Linked DNA regions of Homo sapiens. The protein of the gene in region 1 interacts with the protein of each later gene in a pairwise test. Each region holds a gene or a part of one and is shown in the gene's direction. Other genes may lie near its edges.

Region 1 (3,747 bases):
GCAGCCTGTGTGCCCGGTGGGGGCTGGGGGTGAAGTTTGAGAGGGTTGCTCACCAGGAGGCAGCCTGTGTGCCCAGCGGGGGCTGGGGGTGCTCTTTGTTCCCTTGGGTGGTGGTTGGCCCGAGTGCCCACAGGGAGGCTTCTCTGGCTCCTTCGTTTCCCAGAGTTCCTCCCCAACCCCCTGCCGCCCACCGCCTGGGTTGGGTCCAGCTCGTGTCTCAGAGCAGCCTGCTGGCACAGGCTGAGTCAGCTGTCGTGGGCACCGTCTTTTCTCGCCTCCCCTGAAGCCAATCTTCCCCTCTCTCCCTGTCCAGACACACAAGGGAGCCCTGGGAGGTAGGTGACCTCAAGATCATGCAGCCAGGCTCACTCTGTGGAACCCTACGTACTGGTGGGGTGCCACTGCTGTGTGCATTGTGATTTCTGTGCTGGCTGTGAGGTTTCCCAGGTTGGGGGCTGTGGGGTACTCCTGACTCTGCAAGTTGGCCCAGGCCAGGTGTGTCACCATTGCCCAGGCCTTCAGTGGCTTTCCAGTGCTCCCTCCACATCCACGTTACTCGGCTGGATTTTCTCAAGTTCCCCCACTTGCTCCCAAGAATGGCCCCTCCAGGCTGCCCTGGCTCCAGGCAGACAGGCTTACTGCCCAGATCTGCCCTGGGTTGTCCCCACCCCATCCCCACCTGTCATCTTGGCGCATGTCCATCCTGGAGATCCCAACTGAATGTGGGCTCTTTCCCTCTTATTCCTTGGTCCTCAGATTTGTCAGGCCACTCTTGCCTCAGGGCCTTTGCACCTGCTGTTCCCACCCCCTTGGCATGAGCCACCCCCAGATGCTCACATGGCTGGCCCCTCACTTATTGCCCACTCCCTGAAAGCCCTACATAAATTGGCTTTGTTAACCTTGCTTTGTGTTTCTCTTGTTAACCTTGCTTTGTGTTTCTCCTTAGTACTCACCATTCAGTGTGTTATTTATTTACTTGTTTGTTTATTGTCAGTCTCTTACCACTCAATTGTAAAAGACTTTGTTCACCTCTGGATCCCCAGTAGCTAGAAAAGTGCCTGGCACACAGCAGAGCCTTAGCGCTGTTGTTGGATGAGTGAGTGAACGAAACACGGGAGCAGTAGTCTCCTTGCAGCACATGTCCTGCTCCCTGTGCCTCCTTTTCCCGCGTCCCAGAGCTGGAACCTAGCTGTGTTCACATTTGGATCCTCCTGGCATGTAGCACAGACCCTCACTCAGTGGGCAGTCAGGAAAGAGCTGTAGAATTGTACAGTGCAACGTCAGTTTCACATAGGCCAGAGGAGAATGTGTTTGGGAAGGTAAGCAGCCCAAAGAGTGAGCTTTCTGATTCTGCACTAAGATTCCTTTTTGGATTTTCAGTTGTTTGGGTTCTCTGCACCCAGGCGGTCCCTGCTGCCAAAGTCAGCTCTGTGTCTCCCTGCAGTCACCTCGGATGTGGATGCACTTTGGAAGGAGGCACCCCCACGCCCAGATTCCCTTCCCACTCCATCTGGATCTTTCCAAACTTGTCTTGTATGTAATGTCAGACTCTGTCCCAGGGCTCCCAGCCACTCTGCTTTACCTTCCAGAAGCCTCCGCCTGCCTGACTGTCTCTTGCCTGTGTCCTGGCCTAGTTGGAGGAGATGCTTTAGTTTTATGAGAAAGGGACTGGGAGGTTGGAAAAGAGGATGGGATTTGGAGTAACAGGAGCTCAGTTCCAGCCTGGCCCTGCCACTAATCCCTGGGGCCCAGGGCCAGTCACCTGGCTTGAGAGTCTTTCTCAGCATCTGCAATACACGCACGAGGCCTCTTGCCTGCGGTTGTTTTGAGGCACAAATGAGATGCAATATTTAACTGATGCAAGATATTTTATGACAGCAAGTCATTTGGTGTGGCCACGTAGCCTTGGGCCTGTGTGGCTTCTCTTACTGTCCTGAGAGTTTTAAGGGTCAGGTTTGTGAGTTACAGCTACGGCCTAGTGAGAGAATGCAGAGGAGGCACGTCATAAACTCTAAGGGGCTGTTTTAATATAAGGTGCTATGTCTGTTGTTTTGTGTTTCAAGGATCAAAGTTAAGAGAAAAAAAATATGTGGTTGAACTTCCTGCATTGAGTGACTGAAAATATTTTCATCTCTAGTTTTCTGGAAACGGAAACACTCCAACATTTGAAGATGGTTTTGATGGCGAAACCACTGGAATGAAATGCACATCATTGGGCAATTCTGTGTGTTGAGTTTCATCCTTCTTTGTTTGTCATTTTAAATAATTTCCCGACAAATCTGGAAGGCACGTCTTGTCTTAACTTTGCAACAAGGAGGCTGGGGACAGGTAGCTGAGCTGTGGGTTGCCTAAGAACACTCTGCTGTGACGGGGCAGTGCTGGCCTTTGAGCCTGAGCTGGAGAGAGTGTGAGGCCCATGTTTTCTCCCTGTCTCCTGCTGGGGCCCATTTTGTATCAGATTTGTTTTTCACGGGGTGGGCATGACTAGGACTCGTGACCACTGGTGGGCAAGTACAGAGGCTAATTTTCAACACGTGCCGAGAGACTGATGGCTGGCATCAGAGAGTCATGGAAATGCCACAGATGACATGGGCCCTTCACAGGGATGGGGAGAGGGTCTGGGAGCTTGCCCTCCAGGAAGGTGGCTGACATGGTTGGTGGGACATGAAGGTGTTTTCCGTTTTGCACTTGAAGCCAACATGGATTCTTAGCACTTGTTGTCCCTAGAATCAACTGCGCAGAGAGATGCTTGGTTCTGAAACTCTCAGGCAAGGACAGTTCTGAGGAAACTCTCATTAGTAAATAGTGAGTCGGAGAACACTATTGACATTTGGCATTTTCAGTTGAGATATATGTGTACAGTCATGCGTCACATGACAGTGTTTTGGGGAATGATAGCATATATGACAGAGGTCCCATAAGATTATTATGGAGCTGAAAAATTCCTATTGCTTAGTGACATTGTCGTAAAGTTGTAGTGCAGTTACTTTATTTTTTAAAAAAATTTAATGTAGCCTAAGTGTACAATATTTATAAAGTCTACGCTAGTGTACAGATGGACTCACCCAGAGAAATTTCCAGTCTTGCAAGCTCCATTCATGGTTAGTGTCCTAGATGGGGTACTGTGTTATATATAATATATATATATGTTTTTTTGAGACGGAGTCTCGCCCTGTCACCCAGGCTGGAGTGCAGTGGCTCAATCTCAGCTCACGGCAAGCTCTGCCTCACGGGTTCATGCCATTCTCCTGCCTCAGCCTACCGAGTAGCTGGGACTACAGGCACCTGCCACCACGCCTGGTTAATTTTTTTGGATTTTTAGTAGAGACGGGGTTTCACTGTGTTAGCCAAGATGGTCTCGACCTCCTGACCTCATGATCCGCCCACCTCGGCCTCCCAAGGTGCTGGGATTACAGGCGTGAGCCACCACGCCTGGCCCATGTTTTATCTTTTATACCATATTTTTACTGTGCCTTTTCTATGTTTAGATAGATACTTGTGTTACAGTTGCCCACAGTATTCAGCGTGGTAACATGCTGCCCAGGTGTGTAGCCTGGGAGCAATGGCCTGTAACCTATAGCCAAGGTGTGGAGTAGGTTTGTATAAAGTATGCTCTATGATGTTTGCACAATGATGAAATTGCCTAATGACAAATTTCTCAGAACACATCCCTGCCATTAAGCGATGCATAACTGTGTGTATATGTGTGTGTGTGTGTGTGTATGTGTACGTATATATGTGTGTATG
Region 2 (3,747 bases), on another chromosome or scaffold:
GAGTTGTTCTGTGGTCTCCTTAGAGTGGGAGTACTGAGGACGAGGCAAGGAATAGAAACTGCGTGTCTGGGCTGGTTATGCCTTATCTCCCTGGCTCTTTATAACAACTGTCCTTGTGAGGATGGCTGTGAAAAGCAGAAATTTTCTTGTCATTCTACTTTCTAGATAAGGATGCCTCCTCAGAGAAGTTGAGTGACTTATGCAAGGTCACACAGCTCAGGATGACAGAACTTGGTCAGGATCTCTGCCTGCCTCGAGTTCAGGGCACTGTCTGCTGAGGTGGGGAGTGTGGTGCGGAAAGCACCAGGAGTGTGATCTAGGAGCTGGAAAGACGGGCTTTAAATGTTAGGCCTGGTGCGTTTCAGCTCCATGTGAGGCTTTGGACGAGATGGAGGAGTAAAGTAGCTGGGTGCTGAGTGACGCTCAGGTGGGCCAAGAGAGCTCCAATGGCCAAGCTGGGCTCCTGCATGGCTCTGAGATGCATGGGGTAGAGTCATAGGCAGGGAGTTATTAAACAAAAGTGAATGACGTCAAGCTTGGAGTGGAAAGGGTGGCGGCGCTGCTGATAGTACCAAGTAGTAATCACACATGGCTTGGCTTTTCTGAGCTTGTTTCCTCATCTGCCAAACAGGGGCAGCTGTCCCTCCAACGCTGGCTGTGCACATAGACACACAGGGCTGGCAAGAAGGGAACGGATGGATGAGTGTTCCCACCTCCACGGCCTTTAGAAACGGACTCCTGGTAGCCATAAAGGGAAACTGAAGAAACGGAGTGGGGCTTACGTGGCTGTGTTGGGGCCAGGTGCTGGAAAATGTTCTTTCCTCAGCCCTTCCCGCATTCTAGGCCACCTGCCCAGACTGAATTTCTTTGAACTGTTCTCCCTGCAGGAGAGAGAGCTGTTGGCTCGTCCCTGAGGAGCTCTTTATTAAACCTGGGATGGAGGGGTGATAGGTGCTGGGATAACAAAATCTGCTCCTCCCTGAGCAGTCTCCGTGCCTTACCCCTGACCACCCTCTTTGGCACACCACCCTGCAAGAGGGCTTGAGCTGCCCCACCTTTGTACATCTCTGGGCCTGCAAAATGGGGGTTGGAATTTGTAGATAGAGTCTGCGTGAGGCAAAATGAGTCCAAGTTCCCAAAGGGGCCAGAATGCAGCCCCTGAATACCAAGAGGCTGGAAGGAGGGAACTTTTAAGGAAGCCAAGAAAGGCTTCCTGGAGGAGGAGACTGCTGAACTAGGCCTGAAAGATGGTAACTAATAGCATTCCCCCAGAGTTTACCATTTAAAAACAGGTGGTATTGTTCCTATATTATAGAGGACATAGGCTTGGAGAGGTGAAGTGACTCCCCCAAAGTCACAGAGCTCCTCAGGGTTGGAGCTGGAACTCAAACTGAGGCCTTCTAAGTCCCGAGCCTCATCCACAGTGGCTGGGACTTGGCTCTTTGGAGACACAGATGGAGCTTGCGGGATGGAAGAGGGAAAAGCTCCTGGGGCTTTAGTTCTCAGCTCAAAGAACCTTCAAAGTGGAGGAAGGAGCTGGAAGCTAGAGAGCCAGGCCCAAGGAAGCCCAGCCAGGGGAAGTCGGGTGGGATTCCTGGCTGTGGGCCTGGGTCACGTAGGCCAGCTGGCCCCTGGGCCTCAGTTTCCTGTTGCTCCCTAGTGTCTGGGGGCAGAGGCAGAGATTCCGGTCTCTGGCCTGGCCTTTACTCCCAGAGTCACAACAGTAACCATAGCGCCGATGAACGCTGTCTGGGCACTTGCTGTGGACCGGGCATCGTGCTGAGATTGTCCACACATCGCCCCTCGTTCCTCTATTCTATAAAATGGGGCAACACTATGAAGTACCTGAAATAGTCCTATCTCATCGAGGCACAGACGGGTTACGTAACTGGCCCAAGGGTGTAGAACTGCTGGGGTGTGAATGCGGGTGACCAGCTATGGAACTTGTACTGTCTCAAGTACTGGCTGGTGACTTAGGTAGGTCCTTCCCAGGCCTTCATTTCCCTGTCTTGAGATGACATCTTAAGGCTACTCCACCTCGCTTCCTCCTCTAGGAAGTTCTGTGCTTCTCGCGGAAAGGCTGGGTAGACAGGTGGACCAGTTTTGTGCTCACTGACCTCGACTTTGTTCAGGCTTCTTTGGACTCTTTTGTTATCCCAGCACCCATCACCCCTCCATCCCAGGTTTAATAAAGAGTGGCCACAGGGAGGTCTCCCATGGCTGAGAGTTCATTAGCTGGGCAAGGCCAGGCTGCAGGAGTGCTGAGTCTTGCTGGGAAACAGCCTCATAAATAATTAAAGCTCGGCCACAGCTCCCTGCCTGTGCTGTAGCCCGCATCTGGCCCTCAGTGTGCGGCCTGGACGTGTGCTCCTGACACTGGACCCAGCCTCATCTCCTTCGTGGATGGAGCCATCTGACGACAGTGTGGCTCCTTTCTGAACCTCCCCGTCTTCACCTGACCGGGCAACTCCACCATCCAGAGTCCTCCTGGGGCTCCCAACTATCCAGAGAATAAAGTCAGTGTAGACTCCTCTGTATTTGGCCCTCTGTGACCTGCTCCTGTTACCCACTTCCCTGCAACCTCTTCCCGCCTCTTCCTGTGAGCCTGTGACACCAAATTAGCTTCTGCCACACTCTCACCCTCCTGCTGCTTCTCACCTCCAGGCCTTTGTGTGTGCTATTCCTCCTGCCGGACACCCTGCTCCCTCACTGGCTGGATTCATTTTATCATCCTAAGAGATCCGGTGCAGGTGTCACCTCCTCTAGGAAGCCTTCCCTGACACCCCATTGCCTCCAGGCTGAGATACAGGATTTGAGTTACTTAGAGACCCATGTCAAAGTCACAACTCAGACACACCTGGTTTTTACATCCCAGCTGTCGCCTCCTGGATGAATGGTTGTGAGGATGATACTAGGCCCTCCTTTTCGGAGATTAAATGTGAGGATTAAATGAGGTCACATGCCTGGTAAGCAGGAGGTGTTCAGTGAATGGCAGTGGGTGAGGTTGTTCTTGGTGGGAGGGGTTTCACTGAGGTCTCTAGGTACCTGACGTCTGGTCTTTGCAGGCCAACCCGGACCCCTTGCTTCCCCTGCTCCTGTCTGCTTAGCCAGATGTCGAGGTTCCTGCAGCTGGTGCTCGCCTCAGCCAGGGAGTTGCCCAGCCACCGTAGAGGTGACAGAAAGCTGCTTGGAAAGGAGCTGGGGGAAGAAATGAGTCAAACAGGCCTAGGGCCCTAGGAGGGGCAGCGGATGGCTTCCCTCTGGCTGTGTGCTGGTCCTAGAGGCTGGCTTCTGTCCTGTCTGCTCCTTTCCTCTTGGCTGTGCCTGGGGAGGAGAGGAGGGCCTGCATCCCCCATGGCACTGCCCAGCAGGCCCTAGCAGGCCTTGGGAGTGTTTGCTGAAGACTTTCCCTTGGGCCCTCCCAGGTCAGCATTCCCCGGTGTGAGTCCCTTGGGCCTCAGGGATGGTTGGCTTCTTCCTCCCCAGTTGTCTGCTGGTGGCCGACTTGACAACTTTCCTCCTTGGGGAAATGCTGGTAGCAGGTGAAGCCAGAGAGAGAGAGACCCCCAGGGGGCAGTGAGGAGCGAGAGCCCAGAGGGCGGATGGAACAGGCACGCCCTTGAAGGAAGTAAATGCATGCATGCTCTCCCAGCACCAGGTTAGTGGTCTACTCCCAGGCCCATGCTGTCCCAGGGGGCCAGCACTGGGGTCTGTGGGAGGGTGTGGGGTTGTGTCCTTAGGGTTGTG
Region 3 (3,747 bases), on another chromosome or scaffold:
ACTCTGAGCACCTATTCAGGCTCCTGCTCTTACTCATTGTGAGCCCTAGGGCTAGTCTTGCCTCTGTTTTCTCTTTTGTCAAATGAATATATGAATCTCTACCCTACACAATAGTTTTAAGGGTAAAATGAGATGAGAATGGTAAAGTGCGTGGGAGCAAAGGAAAGTCTTGTTCCAGCGGAGGACAGGAAAGTGAGGGTGGGTTAGAGCAATCAAGGGGAGGTGGTATCTGAGCTCAGCTTTGAAGGACAAGAAAAATGCCCATTGGCTCCTGATTAGTGAGGCAGTCATGTCAAACATGGAACACTGTCACCTTTGGAGATCAGAATTGGGTTGGTCAGATATGAAAGGCAGCAAGTTTGTGGTAAGATTGGAGAGGTAGGCTGTTATGAGTTGCTGTTGGCTAGGAAGCCTCAATATGGGAGAGGGCCTGTCTGAGCTCTTGGGCCCAGGAAAAAGTATATGGGCCAGGACTGCTGCACCCCTTTCTAACAATCCCACATTGTGTTTTTCAGCCATGTGATCATTCTGGGTGACCTGAATACAGCCCACCGCCCCATTGACCACTGGGATGCAGTCAACCTGGTAAGGCTCCCTCTAGGTGCCTGGCCCCACTCCTGACTGATTCTGTTTGTCCAGCCAACCAACCCTGAGTTTTTGGCCCAGGGACAGCTTCCTTTATGGGAAAGCGGAGCTTGGCTTGCAATACTATTCTTATAGTACTGAGGATTGGTCATTCATTCAATAGACAATACTGACTCTGCCCATGGCCTGGCCCTGAGCCACATACTGAGGACTCAGGAGTCAGATCCAGCCCTTGGCTCCTAGGAGCTCTCCAGCATGGTGGTGGGCTACAGACACATGGCTAGCCAATTATAGGATGGTATTCTCAGGGCAGAGGCACAGATGGCATCCCAGAAAGCTACAGGAGCTCAGAGATGGGATTCCTAGGTGAGCTCGGACATCAGGACAGGCAGCTGAAAATGGCTGAATCTTAACAGATGAGTAGAACAGAGCTTTGAAGTAGAAAGCATTCTAGCATGGGCAAAGGTTTCAAGGTGAGAATTTGCATTGTGTGCATGGGGAACCACAAGTCCCTTTCTTCTTAGTGACACAGGAAGGGAGGTGAGTGGCAGAAGGTGGGGCTGGAGAGTTGTTGGGGGTCAGATTTCAAGGACTGTGAATTCCACATTGCCTTGGTCATTTCCTTAATACACTGTATTTCTTGTTTATGAACTTTCAGTACCTCCCTGTTACCTCTGTGATGCAGAGAAAACATGGAGACCTAGCATTCAAGGCTCTCCTTGGTCTGTGACCTGTCTCTTATTTCCACCTTCAGTGTCCCTACACATTTTGTCCTCTCTAGACAGGTTGTCTCCTGTCGGCCCGTTGTAAAAGTTATTCTCATTCTGGCTTTTCTCACTGTGCCCTGAATTGGTGGACATGACCCCCTCCCTGTCTTTTTGTTATATGAACCTCTTATCTCTAAGTTCCCCTAGGCCCATGGTTTTCAGCCCCTAACTGCATATTAGAACAAAAATATCAATATCTTAGCACTACTCCAGATCAATGAACTCAGAACTCTCGAGTGTGGGGCCAGGGTAGTGGCACGTTCTAAAAGCCCCCAGTGTGACTTTATTGTGCAGCCAGGCTTGAGAACCACTGCCCTAGAATCCACAAGCCAGCTCTCATCTTTTCTTGCCTTATGTCTCACGATGGGGGATCAGTGATTTATGCTGGTACAGTCCTACTCAGCACTGGGCTTGGCTTAGAGAAGGGACCGTGGGAATATTCCTTGATTAATTCACAGAAGAGCTACATAAATGTAGATATGGCTCCCAGCTGGGAAAATGAGCAGAAGTGAGAGAATGAGAGAATGGTGGTGGTGGTGTGGTGGGGAGCGGAGATAATGCTACAAAGTGTGAGCCTTCAGTCCCTCCCTGCCTCATTCCTCTTATGCATTCATTCAGTGTGTTCTTTCAGATTCCTGTGATAGCATCATACATCTTTGTGCCTTTTCTACTTAGTTCAGAGGTATCCTAGATCTCTTATGTATACCTCTTTCATTTTCTCCTCCAGGAAAAGAGAACTAATAGTGCCAGCTCAGATGACTTACACAGTCTTTCCAAAATAGCAGAACATACCCACTTTCTACCAGGCTTGCTCTTTTAGTCTTGTCATTTCTGTAAATGGCACCATCATCCCCTTGATTGCTTCAACTTAAAGCCTGGGAATTGTGCTAGTATTGTCTTTCTTTCTTACTCCACTTCCCACATTCAGTTAGTCAGCAAGTACTGTTGATTCTAGCTACAAATCATCTCATAATTTCATGTTTCTGTCTCCTCTGGCACCCACCCTAGTCCAAGTGACCATCATCTTGCTTGTGTGACTATGGCAGCCATTTCCTGCTGGTATTCTGGTCTCCAGTCTGGTCTTTCCTCAAGTCTTTTGGGTACGCAGCACACTCCCTCCACAGGCCCAGCACAGAGACTGTTCTTAAAGTTAGGAGCACCCTCCACCTAGGTTACTCTTACTCAGCCCCCACACCTCAGCTCCAGATCACTTCTCGAAAGGAAGCCTCCTTGGTCCCCAGGAGTAGATCAGGTTCCTACTTTGTCCCTGGCATCATGCATGGCACATAATAGGTATTCCATGAACATTTCTTGCATTGAATGAGTGGGTGGGTAGGTGGATTGAATGGATGGACTGATGGATGATGGATTGGGGATCAGAGCCTAAGGAAGTATTCAGACCTGGATCCTTGCAGGTCCTCAGCTCAGGAGGTAGGAATGGTCATTGAGGGCTTTGACACACTAGATAAACCAAATAGTGCCAGAGGGTTTAAAGGAAGAAGCTGACAGTCTTCCTAACTCTTAACCCCAGCCCTGCTTCCTAGAGGCAAACACTTTTAACTTCCTGTTTTCCATCCTTTTGAAAAGCAGTTCCAGGAATTGCTTTGAGTAAGCAAACTTTCAGATTTGCCATTGACGGACCAATGCAAGACAAATGCAAGCTCGTGCAGAGGGAAAAACAAGCATGGTCTTTTAAATCAGTAAGGATGAAAATCAGAATCCCAGCTCTGCCAATTCCGGACTGTGTGACCTTGAGCAGTAGTCCTCTTGGGACAACCAAATTTTCTTATTTGCAAAATGCAGCAGTTAGTCTAAGTCCCTTCCAGTTCTAGGTATCTAGTTCTGTCTCTCTCTCTTCCAACCCCCTTTCCTCCTCACCTAGGAATGCTTTGAAGAGGACCCAGGGCGCAAGTGGATGGACAGCTTGCTCAGTAACTTGGGGTGCCAGTCTGCCTCTCATGTAGGGCCCTTCATCGATAGCTACCGCTGCTTCCAACCAAAGCAGGAGGGGGCCTTCACCTGCTGGTCAGCAGTCACTGGCGCCCGCCATCTCAACTATGGCTCCCGGCTTGACTATGTGCTGGGGGACAGGACCCTGGTCATAGACACCTTTCAGGCCTCTTTCCTGCTGCCTGAGGTGATGGGCTCTGACCACTGCCCTGTGGGTGCAGTCTTGAGTGTGTCCTCTGTGCCTGCAAAACAGTGCCCACCTCTGTGCACCCGCTTCCTCCCTGAGTTTGCAGGCACCCAGCTCAAGATCCTTCGCTTCCTAGTTCCTCTCGAACAAAGTCCTGTGTTGGAGCAGTCGACGCTGCAGCACAACAATCAAACCCGGGTACAGACATGCCAAAACAAAGCCCAAGTGCGCTCAACCAGGCCTCAGCCCAGTCAGGTT

What was found.
Region 2: the proteins of APBA2 (region 1) and LRP8 interact in a two-hybrid assay, tested with the Homo sapiens proteins (one study listed by BioGRID).
Region 3: the proteins of APBA2 (region 1) and APEX2 interact in binary tests that used the Homo sapiens proteins (3 or more experiments, as listed by UniProt).

The regions. Positions count from the first base shown.
Region 1 is NC_000015.10:28,888,937-28,892,683, forward strand, and holds part of APBA2 (amyloid-beta A4 precursor protein-binding family A member 2), read left to right. Parts: intron 1-3,747. UniProt on the Homo sapiens protein: Putative function in synaptic vesicle exocytosis by binding to STXBP1, an essential component of the synaptic vesicle exocytotic machinery. May modulate processing of the amyloid-beta precursor protein (APP) and hence formation of APP-beta.
Region 2 is NC_000001.11:53,321,380-53,325,126, reverse strand, and holds part of LRP8 (low-density lipoprotein receptor-related protein 8 isoform 1 precursor), read left to right. Parts: intron 1-3,747. UniProt on the Homo sapiens protein: Cell surface receptor for Reelin (RELN) and apolipoprotein E (apoE)-containing ligands. LRP8 participates in transmitting the extracellular Reelin signal to intracellular signaling processes, by binding to DAB1 on its cytoplasmic tail.
Region 3 is NC_000023.11:55,003,284-55,007,030, forward strand, and holds part of APEX2 (DNA-(apurinic or apyrimidinic site) endonuclease 2), read left to right. Parts: intron 1-515; coding exon 516-585; intron 586-3,234; coding exon 3,235-3,747. UniProt on the Homo sapiens protein: Functions as a weak apurinic/apyrimidinic (AP) endodeoxyribonuclease in the DNA base excision repair (BER) pathway of DNA lesions induced by oxidative and alkylating agents.